3 linked regions of the Homo sapiens genome follow. The protein of the gene in region 1 purifies or fractionates together with the protein of each later gene. This does not show direct contact. Each region holds a gene or a part of one and is shown on either strand. Other genes may lie near its edges.

What was found. Proteins that work in one complex are often made in the same cells at the same time.
Region 2: the proteins of SPART (region 1) and POLK purify together in Homo sapiens (affinity purification with mass spectrometry; 2 studies listed by BioGRID and IntAct, with this or other methods). This does not show direct contact.
Region 3: the proteins of SPART (region 1) and HECW2 purify together in Homo sapiens (affinity purification with mass spectrometry; 2 studies listed by BioGRID and IntAct, with this or other methods). This does not show direct contact.

Annotation. Positions count from the first base shown.
Region 1 is NC_000013.11:36,329,380-36,336,408, forward strand, and holds part of SPART (spartin), read right to left. Parts: intron 6,980-7,029; exon of another isoform or gene 6,908-6,979; intron 6,454-6,907; 5' UTR 6,452-6,453; coding exon 5,642-6,451; intron 2,218-5,641; coding exon 2,020-2,217; intron 139-2,019; coding exon 1-138. UniProt on the Homo sapiens protein: Lipophagy receptor that plays an important role in lipid droplet (LD) turnover in motor neurons.
Region 2 is NC_000005.10:75,591,883-75,598,911, forward strand, and holds part of POLK (DNA polymerase kappa), read left to right. Parts: intron 1-1,995; coding exon 1,996-2,167; intron 2,168-4,339; coding exon 4,340-5,296; intron 5,297-5,864; coding exon 5,865-5,907; intron 5,908-6,051; coding exon 6,052-6,136; 3' UTR 6,137-7,029. UniProt on the Homo sapiens protein: DNA polymerase specifically involved in DNA repair. Plays an important role in translesion synthesis, where the normal high-fidelity DNA polymerases cannot proceed and DNA synthesis stalls.
Region 3 is NC_000002.12:196,583,534-196,590,562, forward strand, and holds part of HECW2 (E3 ubiquitin-protein ligase HECW2), read right to left. Parts: intron 1-7,029. UniProt on the Homo sapiens protein: E3 ubiquitin-protein ligase that mediates ubiquitination of TP73. Acts to stabilize TP73 and enhance activation of transcription by TP73. Involved in the regulation of mitotic metaphase/anaphase transition.

The sequences.
Region 1 (7,029 bases):
TTTATGACGTACATCCTTATTGCCTTGGTCCAACTGTTTCACATCAGTGCCAGAGGCTTCTTTTAGTTGGTCAGAGGAGGGTCTAGTTCTTCCAGGGATTTGGAATTCATTTTCTTCTTCTGCTCTGTTCCAGTTGGCCTAGAGAATAAAGGTTTAAGCTTAACTCTAATCAGAATTTTTCTTAGATGGCTTTCTGCCAGCTATATTACACCATGCTCAAATGACATACTTGTTTGAATGTCAGTTTGGCAGTCTATCAGTAACAACTACTTTTGCTTTTTTCTCTACGATTCTCTTTTGTTTCATCACCAAACCCCAAACCTCTGAGTTCTTTGGTTCATAGCATATGCCTAAGTAAGTTTCAAAAGACAACGTGTAAAAGACAACTTATAGCAGTTGTTGGTATAAGTTATCTTTGAATCAGATGCAGCTACATTTAAATTTAATTAATGAATAAATTTTAGTTAACATGTACAAGAGAAAGTGAATTTAAAGGCAATTAACAAAACTCATGTCCATTTCATTATGCATTATTGGAAGGTTTATTTTTTAATTTTCTGCACAATATACACTTTGCTGAATGAATGCTTAAGAGTAAAAACCAGTCAAAATTATAGCTAGTAACTAGCTTATGTTTACAGTTGAAGTTCTGGGACAGTAAAGCAAGCTAAAAATAACATACAAATACCAAAAAATTAAATTGAAGACAGAAAATAAACATACAACCTAAAAGTCTGCTTAGTTTCTTTCCTAAAGCCCAGTAATACAGGTCCAGTTAACGTAGGGGTGAAGGGAGAAATAGTTCCACATTAGGTCTGTGAATACTTAAGAGCATCATTTCACTCAGTAAACAGTGAAGTGAAGATGAACTCCTTCATTTGACCATATTCCTGCCTTTGTGAATTCCTCCTCACAAGTACAATGAGGCTACACACTTCTGTATGCTGATCATGTATTTTGTTAAATAATTGCTGCTATGCTAAAGTATTGGTTTGTTGACCACCAGGTAGGTCATTCTCGGGTGAACAGGGGCTGATTTTATATTTTCATACACACACACACACACACACACACATCCCCCACACCTTCGTGGTCTCCTGTTCTCATACTTTGCCCATCCCATCACTTAACACAGTAACTGGTTAAATAATGAATTCCAAGTATCTGCTGATTGAAGGAGAGAATAAAAGATTATACTATTATAATGCCCACCTCATTCAACCCCTGATGACTGTCAATATTCATAATCAAAAATACTTTTTCCCTCTTGCTACAACAATATATAAAGAAAGTCTCTCCATAATACTCTATTCAAGTTCCCTGTTAAACAGAAATACTCTATTTCTACAGGTACGCATGTGGGCAGAGGAAACATGCCAAATAAGGAAAGTTCCAGGATGATCATATTTTAAATCATATTTTCTTTTTATTTTTTTATTTGGCCTTCATTTACCACAAGAACAAAGATAATTATCTCAACCAAAGCCTGTTTCTTCCTCAGAATGCCAACCATACCCCTTAAAATGTCCAACATAACCTATCTACTAAAGCTAAAATTATCTTCATGTCACCATTTAGACCCATTAGTACACTTTTCCAGCTGAGCAATAAAACAGTGGTGAAAACAATAGCTAACATTCACAGAGCATAACTACTCGTTCTGATATAAGTGCTTAATGTATTAATTTTTAATTTTCACCACAGCCCAATGAAGTGGACACTGTTATTATCCCCATTTTATAAGTAAATTAAAGTATAGAGAAGATCAGGAACAGCTGAGCTAAACGGTCATTAAGTGGAAGAGTTTGAATTCATATACAGGCAATTTGACTCTAGAGCTCACAATCTTAACCACTATTACAGCAAATTCCAAGCATGTAGTTGTGAACACACAAACAAATGGTGAACTGTCAGTCTCCTAACCTTGATTACAGTAGAGGTTATTACAATTTCTCTAAAAGCTGAAGTGCTTATGTTAAAGTAGATTTTTTTCACCCTAAAGATGATCACACAAGTTACCTGGAGCCGAAGGTCAGACATTTGCCTTAACAGATCCTCAAAGAGCTCTCTATCATCCTCTGGTAACTCAGAGGACAGGACGACCCCCACAAAGCATCCTGCTGCTTGTAGCATTGTATCAGGAAACATGTAGGCTCCCGCAGTACATTTCAGAACCGGAGATCTATCAGGAACTAGAGGATATAACCAGTCACAAACCTGAAAGGATTCATTAGAAGAAAAAAAATATACATATAAATAAATGAAACTAGATTTTCATTTATGTTTTAATAAAATTGTTATACTAGAAAATAAACACTTCAAAGTTGGAAACATATTTTAAAAGGCTTTAAGAAACATCAACATCAACAAATCCCCAAGAAAATTAATCATTTGCTAGTCTGATCTTTCTGCAATAAGGACTGTGCTAAATGTGCCATGGCTCCACTAATTATACAATCTTAAAGCTGATGGCCTTAACTAGCCTAGTGTTAACCAATAATGACTCCAGCTTTAAATAAATAATAATCAAAGTAAATTAAGGTTTTCGTTATTGAAATCAGATATTCCTTTTGTGGTAAATAAACTATTTTCAGATATTATTTACTTGAAATATTTACTGAAATAATAGTATTTACTGATTTAATCCTCCTAACAATCCTATGAAATCAGTTACTATTATTGTCATTTTATGTACAAGAAAATTGAGGCACAGAGAGGTCAATTAAGTCGCCCAGAACCAACAACTAAAAAGTGGAGCTTGGATTTTAACACATATAGTCTGGACCAGAGAAGCTGAACAAGTATTTTAATTAGAAACCCAGCACTCACAGGCCGGGCACAGTGGCTCACACCTATAATCCCAACACTCTGGGAGGCCAAGGAGAGGTGGGGGGATTATTTGAGGTCAGGAGTTCAAGACCTGCCTGGACAACATGGTGAAACCCCCATCTCTACTAAAACTACAAAAATTAGCTGGGGGTGGTAGTGCATGCCTGTAATCCTAGCTCCAGCTCCTTGGGAGGCTGAGGCAGGGGAATCACCTGAACCTGGGAGGTGGAAGTTGCAGTGAGCCAAGATTGTGCCACTGCACTCCAGCCTGGGCAACACAGCAAGACTCTGTCTCAAAGAAAAAATAAATGAATAAATAAGAAATTCAGCACTCACTCACAACATGGAATAATTTTTTGTACTAAACCCAAGAGAACCTGACATAACAGAATAGATTAAGTTAATGTTTATGGATTATCTATCTATTGTGAAATTAAAAGCAAAATAACAAAAGCTCTCCTGCAATGTCATCTGCGGAGGTCGGCTTGCCAGTACATACACAGACATAAGCTCACATCCTGGCTGCCTAATTTATTTCTAATGCAATACATTCTTTGAGAAACCAAAATATAACTGTGCTCAACATCAAAACAGTCTTACCCACAAACTTTTAACATTTGAGTAGTTATTTATTTTAATATGTATGAGAAAAATACATATTTCCCTTAATTTCAGTTATTATTAAGATAAAACTGACAAGTGGGACAATTTAGTAAAAATATAAAGCAAGTAATAGCAGTGGTATAGAGTTGACAAAAAAATTGTAAAAGTTATTCTAAAATAAAACTTAGGAAAGGTTTTTCTTTTTTTTTTCTTTTTTTTAAACTATTCCATGGTTTCTTTCAGATTATCTATATCCTGGTCACCTTAATTGAACTGCAATATCACCAAATTGTCTTTAAAAAAACCAACACTTTATAGACCTTTCCTAGGACAGGATATTACAGATAAGTGAGTCATCCACCATAGGCTGATTTTTCCCAGTTTCATTTTCAGAGGGCAATCTCATGTCCAATTTCTGTAATTATAGATTTAACAGGTTTAAAAAGTATTTGGTATTAAAACTAAAACCAAAAGAAAAATCTTTTTTTGAAGTTCCAGAATTCTATCTACCTAAAACCAAAAAAACTTAATTTCCTATTTAGACCAATAGTGATTTTAACAGTGATTTTTAGCACAGGAAATATCTAACTTCTAGTATTTAGTTGGATTATTATTGTATTTTTTTTTTTTTTTTGGATAAAAACATTCAGTAAACACATATGTTAACTCCTTTTAAGGACACTCTGCTACAAATACCTGAATACAAGCAAATGAGAACCTCTTAAAGAGACTCAAATTAAATTTTGGGTGCAATTTTACTTTTCGTTTAGGACAAAAAATACACATGAGAAAGATTAAAAACAAAATTAAATGCACTAAGGACAAATTTGTATTAAAGTACAAGTCATTTCAATGGATGAGTGAATGTAACCACGGTACAGTATTTCTGCCATTCACTACCCCATCTCCAGTTGCTAAGGACCCAAAGATTTTTTATTCCATCATTACAGTGCAACACTATTAGTAGAAACTGTTATAGCTTTTATCACCCGCCACTACAAACCCCAATCAATAAGCCTACTCTTTGTAACCTTAAGGCTCCTTCCTTAAAATAATCTACAGGATTCACAATATTCTTTCTGTCCAGTATCAAATATTTCCTTTCAATAATGCCCTCAAAGTATCTCCCTCACACATCCCTAGCAAGCCTCGAATTGTCTTTAAACAACTTTCAAGTTGACTTCATATAAAAACTACATAAGAATCAACAGGAGAGAATACCAAAAGAGAAAATGAATAGAGATAAGCTGTGCTATTACTAAACCACATTATTTGGACTGTGGACAAAACATCTGTTTTGCTTAAATAGTGATCTTTCTTCAATGCAAACTCCTTTGTTATATTCAACGTATACTGAGTCCTCATTTCAAGAACTCATCTTCCTATACCTACATCCAATCTTTTAAAACGAGACTGTCACTGGACCACTCTCTTCAGAGTACCTCACTAAATCCACAGCAATGCCCTGACATCAATCTTTATGTAGCACTCTTTACTCTTAGACCAAGTGCATTCTGGTAAATTTCTCTGCTTGGACTGTTGGAATTACATCTTAAATTATCACCACAGTCTCGACTTCTAAACCAAGGTCTCTCAACCTTGGCATAGTTGAGATTTTGGGCAGGATAATTTTTTTTTGTTCATGAGGGCTGTCCTGTGAAAATGTGTGGCAGCATCCGTGGCCTCTATCCACTATGCCAGTAGCAATCAACTTCCAGTATGACAACCAAAAATGCCTCCAGACATTGTCAAATGTTCTCTGGGGAGGCAAAACTACCCTGGGTTGAGAACAACTGTTCTGGACCATGGGCTCGGTCTCTCCCAGTTCAGACCCTCAGCTGAGTCTTGACAACATTTGTGAATATTTACAGCTATACATCCACAGGAATTACATAAATCCCTTTCGAAATTAAACTTATTAGATTTCTTCTTCAGATAAAGAATTAAAAATGTAAGGATGACCACTCTTCTCAAGTTTTATCATCACAAACTTAATACCAAAATAAAACTATTAATATATCTTTTTTAAAAAAAGAAAAAGACAAACACAAACATGTTCAAGGCTCATAATTTCATGGAATATATTTAAAAACAAAGTAGAATTTGTCGTTATCTTTTTGCACTTATACTGGACACATAAACATTAACAAATAAAAATGATGTAGTCTACACGTATTTCAAATTATGCTTTCATTTTTCTTTCGCTTACCTGAAGAAACCCGGGAGGACGGTTTAGAACCGTATCGAGAGAATTATCCAAAAACCTCACAATTCGAAGGTACCCAGGATACGAAGGTGCACTAACCTCCCCTGCAGGATTTACAAAAAAAATCTGTACTCCATTTGGTATCAAAATCAATTCATCTGCATCCAGCCCTAAGGTCTCAAGAGGCGGTGGCTGAGAATGATTCCTATAAAACTCCTCTCCAACTGATGAAAACTCCCCAGAATCTGTTCCATAGGATACAGTGTAGTGACCTTCAGCAGCTTGAGGAGTATAAGCAGGAGGAGCTTCTGCTGGACAACTTTGTGATGGTAAAGACAGAGAAGCAGGTGCAGCAACTGCCCCTGCACTTGGAGTTGAGGTGTTTCCATTTACTTCAGCATGCTGAGGAGCTGAACTAAAAGACTGAGGCTCTGGTAATTTTTCACACATGTCTTTAGGTGGAAATTCTGGATATAACTTGGGCACCTCCTGAAGATCATTCTGCAGAGAAGTGGCAAGACCCTTCTCTAGAATTTCCAGCCTGGTGCGTACATTCTGTAGAGTTTCTTTCATTTTCTGTTGCATCTGTCTAGCAGATTCCCACCCAGGACCTGTGTGTTCAGACTCTTTTGATGAAATGCTGATCCCTCTGAGCAGGTGTCCTATTCCTTGCTTATAGTAGTTCTTTGCTTCTTCCTTCTGACCTAATTCATCTGTATTCAGACCTTTGTTAACAAATAAAAAGGCCTTCTTATATGCTTCTCTGATGATCTTAATTTCAGCAGGTTCTCCATTTTGTGGCTCTTGCTCCATTTCTGCAAAATTGGAGACATATTTAATTATCTTGCTTAGCTATTGTTTACTTATGATTCGTATCTCCTACCTGAATATATTTTAAGAGGACAAGTGCCTCGCTTATCTCTGTTTTGTTCACTATTATACTATCCTTTAAGCCTACTATTAGGTCTGTCATAAAGAAAGCACTTAACATGTATTTGATGAATGGATAAATAAATGAAAACTCTTGGTCCAAAATATCTTAATTTAAAAACATAAGAGAATAAATCAGAATACATCTATTAAATAATTTTCTTGTTCTGGTTTCTTATAATAGTTTCCTATCATACATCCTTATGGTTGAAACAAGAGTCTCATTCTAAAATTCATTATAATATAAATCCAGATTATATCCAGCCAATAAAAAATGAATTGAATCATAGACTGGGGAAAACAGAAATGAGAAAAAAAAAGTGAATGAAACTTTGTTACCTGATTTCCACTTAAAGGTGGCAGGTTACCCCACACAGCCCTGTTGCTTCCCCAAATCCCACTAAGATGACTCTGGAAAGATTATGAAAAAGGAACAACCATTTTTCTTAGTGAGAAAAATA
Region 2 (7,029 bases), on another chromosome or scaffold:
TATCATGGGGTGTATAATAGCCACATGATGTCATGGTTGATATTAACCTTCATCACTTGGTTAGTGTTTGCTAGGCTTCTCCACTGTGAAGTTAGTGTTTTTCCCTTTGGAAGTAAGTCAGTAAATCTAACTACCCTCAGATGAGAGAGAGCAGGAATTAACTTCCTCCTCCAGGGGATACTAAAATATACATAACATAAAATTTACATTTTAACCATTTTTAAGTGTACAGTTCATATTGTTTTATAACCATCACCACCACCCATCTCTAGAACTGTTTCATTGTCTCCACTGAAACCCTGCACTCATAAAACACTAAGTGTAAAGGGAATTCTTACATTAAATTGTTTGGCATAGCATCTGGCAATGCAGAAGGCACACAATAAGTGTGAACTATTCATAAGTCGTTTTCAGTGAGACACTTTTAGAAAGATTTTTTTCCTTCCTTTGTAGGTAATTAATCAACCTCCAAAAGAGATTCAGTAAAAATAAAAGTGATCATTTAACCTTTCCCTCTTGTAATGGTCTTTTATAAAAATTCAGTTGGGGGGCCAGGCACGGTGGCTCATTCCTGTAATCCCAGCTCTTTGGGAGGCCAAGGCAGGGGGATCACCTGAGGTCAGGAGTTTGAGACCAGCCTGGCCAACATGGTGAAACCCCATCACTACTAAAAATGGTGGCGGGCACCTGTAATCCCAGCTACTCTGGAGGCTGAGGCTGGAGAATCACTTGAACCTGGGAGGCAGAGGCTGCAGTGAGCCAAGATCCCGCCACTGCACTCCAGCCTGGGCATCAGAGTGAGACTCTGTCTAAAACAACAAAAAAAAAAACAAACAAAAAAATTCAGTTGGGAAGGGGAATAAAAATTACTGGCTAAAATGGGATTTTAGGTCAGGCATAGTGGCTCATGCCTGTAATCCCAGCACATTGGGAAGCTGAGGCCAGAGGATTGCTTGAGCCCAGGAGTTCAAGACCAGCCTGGACAACATAGCAAAATCACGTCTCTACAAAGAAAATGTAAAAATTAGCTGGGCATGGTGGCACGAGTGTGTAGTCCCAGCTACTTGGGAGGCTGAGGTAGGAGGATAGCATGAGCCTGGGAGGTCAAAGCTGCAGTGAGCCACGATCATGCCACTGTACTCCAGCCTGGGCAATAGAATGGGACCCCCATCTCAAAAACAAAATAAAATGGGATTTTAGCTTATGTTTGGAAAGGGAAGTAAACGTTTTTGGCTAAAATGGTATTTTAATTATTCTTTTTTTTTCTGAGACAGAGTCTTGCCCTGTCACACAGGCTGGAGTGCAATGGTGTGATCTCGGCTCAATGCAACCTCCATCTCCTGGCTTCAATCTATTCTCCTGCCTCAGCCTCCCCAGCCGCTGGGATTACAGGTGCCTGCCATCACGCTCAGCTAATTTTTGTATTTTTATTAGAGACAGGGTTTCACCATGTTGGCCAGGCTGGTCTTGAACTCCTGACCTCGTGATCCGCCCGCCCAAAATGCTGGGATTACAGGCGTGAGCCACTGCAGCCGGCCTCTTATTCTTTATGATATGTTTATCACCATGTTTTATAAATAATTGGTTATAATTCCATATTCTTATGTCCGTAAACCTTTCTGAATTTTTCTAACATGTAAATGACTTTTTTCTAGAAGTTAGGAAGTCATACAGAATAATGTATTCTGGTTGGGTGCAGTAGCTCATGCCTATAATCCCAACACTTTGGGAGGCCAGGATCGCTTGTGGCCAGGAATTTGAGACTAGCCTGGGTAACATAGTGAGACTCTGATTCTACAAAAAAATAAAAAATTAGCTGGTGTACTGGCACGCACTTGTAATCTTAGCTACTCAGGAGGCTGAGGCAAGAGGATTGCTTGAACCCAGAAGTTGAAGGCTGCAGTGAGCTACAGCTGTGCCAGCGCACTCCAGCATGGACAACAGAGAGAGACCCTGTCTCATAAATAAATAAATAACATATTGTATATGTTATAGGGTAGAACTGTTACCATTAAGTTGAAGAATGTGAATTTTGAAGTAAAAACTCGTGCATCTACAGTTTCATCTGTTGTTTCTACTGCAGAAGAAATATTTGCCATTGCTAAGGAATTGCTAAAAACAGAAATTGATGCTGATTTTCCACATCCCTTGAGATTAAGGCTTATGGGTATGACTTTTTCATTTTTTTGTTTTTCCTTAAATCTGCTAGATTTTCCCAAATAATCAACTTTGGGAATACAGGGGGCCCCCAACTTAACAATGGTTCAACTTAATGATTTTTCAACTTTGCGACAGTGGGAAAGCTGTATGCTTTCAGTACACTCTTGACTTACAAGGTGGTTACATCCCGATAAACCCATCATAAATTGAAAGTATTGTAAATTGACTTATTATGTTTTCAATTTACAGCGGGTTTATCTGGATACAATCCTACTGTAACTCAATGAGCACCTGTATTCTCGCCTTCATTTTATTTCTTAAACCTGTTTACGAAGTTCTTCCTTTGCTGCTGCCATTTGTCTTAGTTATTAGACCCTGATGTGTGAAGCCATGATCATTAGTTTAATTCCAGTAAGGGTCAATTAAAGTTGTTATTTTCCTTATAACTTAATGAAATTCTTGTGGCCAGGTGTGTTTCAAAATTCAAAACTTTTCAGATTTTAGAAAGCAAATTCAGTGCATGTAGAGTATATTACGTTGTAATACTTCTTTGTGGATCTGGGGCAACACCCCCTGTTCAAACACATTAATATTTCTGTAGCAAAACAAAATATTCAGAGACTGTAAAGACTGATGACATTAATTTAGTCATCAGGTATCACTTGTTGCTTACAATTTTCAGAACTTTTTGGATTTTGGAATTACAGATAAAGGATTGTGACATTGTGAAATCACATCTCCAGCCACTACATGGTAAAAAGTAACAAGCCATGTTTCCAAAGTGTACTGGTTGAAAGTATATATGTGGATCACCACTCCAAATGCACATTTTACTAGTAAGGAGTGGGTCACTAGCCATAATTTTATTTATGAAAGATATAGCACACACTGAAATCAACTGAATAAAGTGTTAATTGAAAGAGCCAGGCTGGGCGCGGTGGCTCACGCCTGTAATCTCAACACTTTGGGAGGCCAAGGCAGGTGGATTGCCTGAGGTCAGGAGTTCAAGACCAGCCTGGCCAACATAGTGAAACTGCATCTCTACAAAAACTACAAAAAATTAGCTGGACATGGTGGCGGGCACCTGTAATCCCAGCTACTTGAGAGGCTGAGGCAGGAGAATCGCTTGAACCCGGGAAGTTGCAGTGAGCTGAGATCACGCTGTTGCACTCCAGCCTGGGCAACAAGAGTGAAACTCCACCTCAGAAAAAAAAAAAAAAAAAAAAAAAAAGCCCAAGAGCAGATATCTATAGAAGCTTAATTCATAATTGCCAAAACTTTGAAGCAAGCACGATGTCCTTCGGTACGTGAATGGATAAATAAACTGTGGTACATACAGACAGTGGAATAATATTCAGCACAGAAAATAAATGAATTATCAATTCATGAAAAGACACGAATGAAACTTAACTGCATAATGTTAAGTAAAAGAAGCCAGTCTGAAAAAGCTAAATACTGTGTGATTCCAACCATATGAGATTCTGGAAAAGGCAAATATGAGTACCATAAAAAATAATTGATTGTCAGGAGTTAAGAGGGGCAGGAGGTATAAATAGGCAAAACACAGGAATTTTAGGGCAATGAAATGATTCCGTATGATTCTATAATGACACGTCATTATAAATTTGTCCAGCGCCCAGGATGTATTCCAAGGGTGAACCCTATGTAAGCTATGGACTTTGAGTGACAATGTTGTGGCAGTGTAGGTTTATAGATTGTAACAAATGTACCACTCTAGTGCCACATGTTGATAGTTGGGGTGGTGGAGGGGTGTGCATGTGTAGGGAAAGGGGATCTTTGGGAACTCATTGTACCTTCTGCTCAATTTTGCTGTGAACCTAAAATTCCTCTAAAAAATAAAGTCTATTAGAAAAAAAAGAGCTAAAGAGTCTGTATAGTTGACTCCAGTTAGTTACTGGTATTAATTTAATGGTATTATGTGTCACATATGAATTAAAATCCTACATCATTATACTAACTCCAAATAGTTAATATTTAATGATATTCTTTTATAAAGGAAGGTAAATCTGTACTTATAATACCAGCTTTGAAATGTTACTTATAGTTTCTCTCTAGCCAACCTTTTGTATATGTCATAGCACTAGACAAAATGTTTTTATGCATTGTGAGTGAATTGGCTTTGTTCAATTTGAAATTGATTGTGATTGGTTTAATTTAGGTGTTCGGATATCTAGTTTTCCCAATGAAGAGGACAGGAAACACCAACAAAGGAGCATTATTGGCTTTTTACAGGCTGGAAACCAAGCCCTGTCAGCCACTGAGTGTACATTAGAGAAAACTGACAAAGATAAGTTTGTAAAACCTCTAGAAATGTCTCATAAGAAGAGTTTCTTTGATAAAAAACGATCAGAAAGGAAATGGAGTCACCAAGATACATTTAAATGTGAAGCCGTGAATAAACAAAGTTTCCAGACATCACAACCATTCCAAGTTTTAAAGAAGAAGATGAATGAGAATTTGGAAATATCAGAGAATTCAGATGACTGTCAGATACTTACCTGTCCTGTTTGCTTTAGGGCTCAAGGGTGCATCAGTCTGGAAGCCTTGAATAAACATGTAGATGAATGTCTTGATGGACCTTCAATCAGTGAAAACTTTAAAATGTTCTCGTGTTCACATGTTTCTGCTACCAAAGTTAACAAGAAAGAAAATGTTCCTGCTTCTTCACTTTGTGAGAAGCAAGATTATGAAGCCCATCCAAAAATTAAAGAAATATCTTCAGTAGATTGTATAGCTTTAGTAGATACTATAGATAACTCATCTAAAGCAGAAAGCATAGATGCTTTAAGTAATAAGCATAGCAAGGAAGAATGTTCTAGTCTCCCAAGCAAGTCTTTTAATATTGAACACTGTCATCAGAATTCTTCTTCTACTGTTTCATTGGAAAACGAAGATGTTGGATCATTTAGACAAGAATACCGCCAGCCTTACTTATGTGAAGTGAAAACAGGCCAAGCTCTAGTTTGTCCTGTTTGTAACGTAGAACAAAAGACTTCAGATCTAACCCTGTTCAATGTGCATGTGGATGTTTGCTTAAATAAAAGTTTTATCCAAGAATTAAGAAAGGATAAATTTAACCCAGTTAATCAACCCAAAGAAAGCTCCAGAAGTACTGGTAAGTGTGTAATTGTTTTAAACTGCATGATTTTCTAGGAATATGTATTATTAAAATTAATGAGATTGTTGTTAAATCTGAAACATATACTATTAAATGGGTAGTTTGTGTATGCCGCCATTTAGGGAAATGTTGGTTACATTGCCATAGGTTAGAATTAACTCAAGCCTGTAGATTGTGAATTTGGGGAAAACTTTGGTTTGATCTTGATTTAGCACAGAATGAACTCAAAGGTTTAAGGAGCTGAGTGATCTAATCAAACAAATTCCTTCAGAGAACATCTGTGAAGGCACAGTGGTAAATTAACTATAACTGCATAACTAGAAAGCCTCTTTAACTTATTTTTTGGTAGTGCTGACTCTACCCAAATTTCACCAATAAAATTAAGTGTAATGCTAATAAAATTAGTAAATTACAAAGAAATTATAGTTTTTGGTGTGTTTACATATGAACTATATAGTACTAAGGAAGTTTAATCAATAAGTTTTAACTTTTTAAATTTGTATACAACTTTTTAATTATTTCATATTATTCATTATGGAATTTCTTGACTTTCTTTCCTCTAAAGGTAGCTCAAGTGGAGTACAGAAGGCTGTAACAAGAACAAAAAGGTATGGCTAATTTGAGCTTTAATAAAGCTGGCTACAATATGAAAATTCAATTATTTTATAAATTATTAAGTAATCAATATTAAAAATGAATTATTTTCTAGAATCTCTTCCTGCATTTTAATTGTGTGTTCCTTTTCATTCTAGGCCAGGATTGATGACAAAGTACTCAACATCAAAGAAAATAAAACCAAACAATCCCAAACATACCCTTGATATATTTTTTAAGTAAACATTGAACATTTTATCATTAATTTTTAATTGAAACTAGTTATTTTATAATCAATGAATTTGTTCTTTCTGATTTTAAGTTTGCAGATTTATTTAGTGAAGGCAAGTGCAATAATCCTTCCTCAGATGATGTTTGCTTTTCTAAGATACATATACTGATTCTGTGTATCTTTTTTATAACCATGAGAATTTTACTTCCATTATACATCAATTGGAAATCAATCCTGTTAAGAGATAATTCTTAAAAGGGAAATTAGGAATGGGATAAGAAGGTGATTTTTTTATTATTTTTATACTGAATATAAAAACATTTGTAAGGGCTCTCAAAGATTCACACATGCCTATATTATCATAAGAATTTTTCAGCACTTAACTACTTTGTTGGCATTGATCCTAGTGTCTTTAAATACTTCATGAGCATTCATAATTAAAATTTATCTTAAGTTCTATGAAGAGTATTAATGTAACTAGCATAAGTGGTTTTCTTCAGGAAAATAAATATCACAGTATTATCTGTGTTAAAATGGTTTTTGCCTAAAATATAATTTTTAATTTGGCTTTTCTTATTTAAAATTCCATTATCTTATGAATAAGCACTTGAATCAGTTTTTAAAATATTTAGTCTAAGATGATTCAAAGTAGTTTTATTTTAATACAGGACTTTTAAATGGCAGTATTTCATTTCTTGTCAATTATGTTGGTACTTTCCACAAATCTATAAAGAAGGATAAATTGTACCATCATTTTATTATAATCCTCAAGAGAAAATGTGTAATTCAAAAGATTAATGTGTATTAAAACACATTATGTATCTTAGTTACATTTCTATCAGTACTTTTATTAATATTTGTGAAAGAAGACAGCTTAATAGTAGTTAGCTTAAGTAGTTTCTCC
Region 3 (7,029 bases), on another chromosome or scaffold:
TGCCTGGACTGTGGACCACACTTTGAATAGCAAGGAGTTAGAAGACTTACGAAGGAAGAAAGTTCTGAGATGAGAGTTATCTGAATGAACTAGGCCTCCAAGACTTGACTTTCTGACATTTTAAAAGTCCAAAATGTTAATCTTTTAGTATCCTGTGTCAATTAATATCTGATCTATATAAATAACAACCCTTCATAATGGTCCATGAAGAAGAAATAGATGGTTCCTTTAGCCATTAGGCATTGGTTATTGAATATTCACTATGTGATCAATACTGGGCATTACACAGGGGCATCTGCCAAGTTTCCATATATTTAGAGTGCTTAAAATCTAGGTGGCAAGAAGACTAATGGAAAACAATAACTAGTGTACCACCTAAAACAGCAGATGATTAAGATTTTAATTGCTACAAACGAGTGATTCCCAAGAGGGTAGCATATCAGCATCTGGGTGGAAGGCTAAACACACTGTCTCCCAACTCCTCCTATAAGATACTTACTCCACCCTTACTCTTACTGTCAATCACTGACAAGGGAAACTACACTGAATTCCAGGAATGGCATATTCTTCAGAAGGATGAGGTGGGAAAAATGACAAAAACCACTGTTTTTAAATTGCATACAGAAGGGCAATGGAGACCTGGGGCCTGAAAGAGTAAGTAGAAGTGGTGGGCATTCCAGGTGGGAGTTGCTTCCTGTGGTAAAAGTACTGAGGTGGAGATGAGTCTAGGGTATTTATGGGACAGGAAGAAGACCTGTCTAATTAAAGTAAACTAGAGTGTCCCACTCACCATCACCCTATTTTTAGTGGAGGAAGCATGGAAACTATCTCCTAAAAACCTGATGACCACCTGTTAAAAACACTGAAGAGATATTTCTTTACAGAAAGGCTAAACTAGTTTACCTCTCAGATCCTTTCCAATTTTTCCTCAAGTGCAGAACAAAATTCTGATTCTTCTCCAACCCATAATTCTAAATTGAATCACTTGTCTTGCCTGCTGTTGACCATGGCAGACAAGTGAAGAGAATGTGGATGTGTAAAACTCCCTATAAATTAAAAAAAAAAAAACCTAAATCACTGCATTAGGTTAAGCATTCCATTGCTGCTTAGCATCCCCAGTTCTCTAAGACTGTTCTCATAGGGCTATTTTCAACTCTGTCATCAATCATCTTTGTTACTCTTCCCTGAACCCTTTCCAAATTATCCTCATCCTTCTTATATAGGCAAGTGATGAATTACACTTCAGGTTTTCCCTGAGCACTCCATCTAAAGGAAGTCTCAGTTACACAACATTCTCTGCCAAAGCCCACCTCGACAAAGCACTTAATGTACTTCCAACTAGGTTTTTTCATTTGTTGCTTATGAAATATTTAAAATATACATTTAGAAGTTCATATTGTTAAGAAGTTAATATAACAGTAGCCCATATACCAAATATTACTTCCTTAATTTATGGTCAATGTGGACATCTAACTCTCTAATAAAAAAAATTCATAGTCTAAGATTGTGGCATATGGTTTTACTTGCTAATAATTTTCCCTTCCTTGTTTGTCTTTGCCATGATTCACTGTGGCCTAAGTATATTACTGAGGTATACCATACATACCAACGCCCAGATTTAACAAACATTAATATTTTTGCCTTGTTTTGCAATTATATACTTATTTATTTATTCATATATGTGTGGCCTGTTTTCCATTAGATTCTGTCTTATCTGGACAGAGCCATGTCTGATTATTAACCTCTTTTATACCCATTACTTAGCATAGAGCCTGGCATATAAGGTTCAATGAATAATGCATGAATGACTTTTGTCCTAGTATTAAATAAGGGCCATCACAATGGATGACTTATTAAACAAAAGACAATGATTCCATCTTTATTAAAAGTCCAAAGAGGGGAAAAAGGAAATGAGTCTTTATTAAAGAATGGGGTTTACATTTAAATGCATGCTATAGCTGGATATCGGACATTAGGATGAGTTAGTTGAGCAAGGTACAGAACTTCCCTTCCCTAGGGGCTCCTTTCCCTTGTTCCCTGAATAGCACATATATCTGCCTAGATAACAGTGATACAGAAGATGAGCTCTTCTAGCTCGTGTAGCTTAGAGATGCCAACTCAATGGCTTAAAGAAGGAGAGAACAAAGGAGGAGAAGGAGAAAGAGAAGAGAGGAAAAAATGGAGGGAGGAAGGGGTGGGGGCCTATACGGAGGGTATCCAATACCACTATAAGACCAGAAGAAATCATTCATTTTTTCTAGATTATGCCAATGGCAATAAAGATTATGTCCTGAAAACCTTAGAGTATGAAGTCCATTTGGATAAAATGAAGTGAAGCCTAAGGCAAAAACTTAAGAAAGATCATATCCAACTGTCAGAGAAATCTGACAGTTTTCTCTACCTCCTTCAGCCTGTACTCCCTGCCACCCAATATCTTCATGCAAAATCCTAAAAGTCTGGGTCCCTCCTGCCATGGTTCTCTACATGCTCTCAAATACCAAATATACACTCGTGTCTACTCCCCATCAAAACTTACTGGGTCTAAGTTCTATTACTTTGAGCTCTTATTCTTCTAGCAGGTCACTGAGAGATACTATGCTTATGATATAAATGGCTGTCTATTACTGAAAATATCACTTCCTTAATTTACAGTCAATGTGAACTTCCAACTCCCTAATAAAAAATTTCATAGTCTAAGATTGTGGCATATTGTTTTATTTGTTAATAATTCTCCCTTCCCTCTCTGTCCTTGCCACAGTTCACCACGGGCTAAGCATATGACTTAGGTATACCACTTGATATAACACAAATCATTTCTAATCACTGTCATAAGGAAATGTTTTTCTTGCTCCAAAGATATCTTACTCCACAGATAAAATATTACACGAGCACCTTTCCACTATGCAGCTAGCATATGTCAGCTTGGGGAAGCAGTCTTACACTCACTGCCCATCACTTTGCACAGCAAACTCACAGACACAGGGGCCACAGTTTGGTTGAATCCATAGTTTCCACTGTTTCTTTTTGTATTTCCTCAAGATCAGAGGGTATTACGTCTTCTCCATGAAGTGGGTAGCATGTGGATTGGCTTCTTTCTAAGTACAACTCCTTTTCTTCATGAAGCCATCACCTTATCTGTACCTGAGCCCAGTACCCTGTCAGTTCTGTCCCGAGCAACTTTTCCACTCTCATGAATAATGGTTAACCAAAAAAAAAAAAACAAAAAAAAACTCTTCCTATAGCACAAGTTTTCAGTGACAAATGAACAAAAGCATCACCGAGCACTCATTTCTGAACAAATGCCAAAAGCTGATTCATTCTCTGCATGACATCGGTGGTTTCATCCAACCATAAAGTGAAATATCTGCTAGCGTGCACTTGATAGTAATCGCTCTTCCACACTCCACTCCACTGATATTATGCCACAGCCAACCATGTTATTTGACAAAGGAGTTTTGTCAATAACTTCTGGTTTCTCTCTAAGGATAATGTTTGTCTTTAACTTTCCAGCTGATTTTCCAAGTGTCTCTTCAATAATATGACTCATACTTATTTTGCTACAAGGATCCTTTAATGATGCTAATAGAATTATAATCTCTTACCTACCTTTAGCCATATAATACATTAATTTTATAAAGGAAAGCATTATTGTGTGCCTGTCCTAGAAAACTTCAATAGTATAACAGAGAAGCCACTGTGCTTTGTTCGAAAATGACACAAAAACATCCATGGCTTCATGCCACTATTGGACAAAGTTTCATAACAGGCAACGATTACGGATTCATTTGGTCCTAATGGGGATAGCAAGTCCAATAAAAAATAGTTTTGAGATAGTCATTGTCATATTTCCATTTGCACTTTTCAATTTCAGCTACTGTTCTGAAATTGTCACTCTCAGAGATTCCCTTGTCTCTATACATACATATTCCCATTTTATATGCAGTGGGATTCAGTTCTCTAAGTATGTTTATGGTATTCTGAAATGTAGCATTTACAGTACTATTTTCATCACTATTTTTACACTTCAATGAACTACTTTTGAACCACTTATCTAGTTTTGTGAAATGGGAATACAATTTAAGAACAGCAAAAACAAAAAATATTCTTTTAACAAATAAAAAATAAGTAAATGATATAAAAATTATATTAACAAACATGAAGTGGACCATTAACAAAATGTAAGCTATACGCACTCACCAGTGCAGTCTTTGCAGCACAAATACAATCTTAAATATTATAATAAGTTTTAAGAACATAAGGGGATGTCTGCTGAAATCATAATTAAATGGCCTATCTCAAGGCCCTACAGGCTTTGCAACACCCACACCACCCTTCTGGTCTCATTTCTGACTTCCCCCTTGTCATTCCACCCCATCATGCTGATCTTGCAAATCTTTGAACATATCCAAACACATTCTTTTCTCAGGGCCTTTGCACTGGCCATCCTGCAACTCTATCCCTCAGGTATTTGTATTAAGCAACTTCTCTTACCTTCCGTTAACTCTTTGCTTAAGGTCTCTTTCTCCATGAAGCCTACTCAACCACACTTACCCTGTCCTACTTTCTCTTTCTTCCAAAGCACTCATCTCCTTCTAGCATCATATATAATTTAGTTATTTGGTTTATTATCTGTCTCCCACCTCCCACCTGCCTGCCCCCAACAGAATGAAAACTCTACAAGGTCAGAGATCTTTGTTTTATTCATTGATATATTCCCAGCACCTAGATCAGATACTAACCCGCAGATGGAGCTCAATACATATTACTTGAATGAACAAATAAATGAATGGATGAATGAATTAAATTTTTTCATTGCTTTTCCCTTCTAACCACCAAACTGCCTATGGATCTTACTTTGAGAATTAAAAAGAAAATGATAAGCCATCAGAGGTTTTTAAGCAAAAGAATTATATCAATAGAATGGTATTAAAATAGACAAGGTCAGGAGATGATTTAAAGTTTGGAGAGGCTAGATCCAAAGAGTTTAGTTAAAAAGTCAACCAATGAAAGAGATAAGGAAGGGCATAAATTTCCAATTACCAGGACTTCTTAAGTGGTTTATTTCAAACCTACAATTCACATATCCATAGATACATTATCAATGTTTATCTATACATACATTGCATACACACACACACACATATACGTTGAACAAGACTAGAAGAAGCTAAGGACATTTCTCATCATATGGATATAATACATATACAAGCTTATCACTTGAGTCATAGTTAGAACAGCCATAAATCCTAGTTTTCCTGGCACAGTCTCAGTTTATACTTGTTGATCTAATGCCCCTTCCAGTTAGTACCATATTTTACTCTCAAAAGTGTCCTTGTCTGGATTTTTTTAAATTACATAGTCATCCTACTTATAAAAAAGATACATAGGCCGGTCACGGTGGCTCACACCTGTAATCCCAACACTTTGGGAGGCCGAGGAGGGTGGATCATTTGTCAGGAGTTCAAGACCAGCCTGGCCAACATGGTGAAATCCTGTCTCTACTAAAAACACAAAAATTTGCTGATGGTAGTGGTGCGTGCCTGTAATCCCAGCTACTTGGGAGACGGAGGCATGAGAATCGCTTAAACCCAGGAGGCGGAGGATGCGGTGAGCCAAGATTGCACCACTGCACTCCAGTCTGGGCAACGGAGTGAGACCCTGTCTCAAAAAATAAATAAATAAATAAATTTCTTCTTATTTAGACATGCTGACCAAGCTTTTGAGGACTTCAGTGGAGTGAGTTTGGGAAAGGTGACAGCCATAATTAATTATAACATCCACTGGCCAACATAGTAAGTGAGCTGTGTTACAAACACACAATTCTTTGGTAAAGGAGCATAGCAACTACTGCAGAAGCAAATGCCACAAACTTCATATATCTAAGTTGGGTAAAGAATCCAAACCCTTGCCAGGTCACCTGCACAATCTCAAACCCCCAAGAGAATTTTCATGTGGTGAACAGACACAACAGTTCTCCCTCTCTGCGACCCCTCTGTATGAAAAGCTGAGACCCAAACCAAACACTGGAGACACAAGGGAGTACAGAAAACAAAAGCCCTCCTATTATCCTCATGGCCCTGAGAGCTTGGAAACTAAGAGAATGTGGAATCAAGTCTTCACAACAACACTTGTGTTCTGGAATCTCAGTAAATATCCAAGATCTGGACCAGACACTAGATCTTGAAACTTGCATTCCTACCTCTAAGAGCCATGGTAACCACTAGGTCTGCAAACAGGTTTTGTAGAAACTGCTCTCCCAAATCAAAGGATTTGTCCCAATTAGTGTCAGCTCTAGATATATGGACAGGTGTTAATTCATATTGTGCTTGAAGACAATAATAATATGGGCTTACAGCCACGGCAGATGCTTAGTAACTTAAGAATAAAACTATTTTATTCACTATGTGTGTAAATAGATGACAAGCAATTATCTCATTCTCCTATCTTCCTTCCTCCTATTTCATTTTTTCTTATATATTTTTCAGGTTTAAATTTTTCTGATTTTCTAGCTTTGCATTTAATAAATAAAAGACTGAAATAAGGCAAGACTCAAAATCTGGTGTCGGAAGAGGGGTGATGAAAAAAATTCAGGATTCCTTAATATCTAGGGTGACCAGATAATTATCACCCAAACCAGGACACTTTTACATGTGAAAGGGGGTGCTTTTGATAATTAAGATAAACCAACAGGAGTAAACTGGCACTGTCACAAGCAAAGCAGGGCATCTCGTCACCTTTCTAATCTCTCATTCATATCCTGATACAAAAGGCATCCTGTGTGTAATGAAGCAACCTCTGCCTCTGTTAAATCAATCAAACTTCAAACATAGTCCTCCCTCTTTCAGGCCAGGCCTGGCTTTTGATAACAGAGCTGGAAAGGTTTTCACCCAATGCTGCCATTCCCTATCCAACACACCAAGCAAAACTGGTTCCAGTTTTTCCCAAGAAAGTAGTCAGCAATGCACAAGAATGTGGATCCAGGCCAGGCCCACAGCAAGCCCCAGGCGAGAAGCCTCTGGTTTCTCTTAA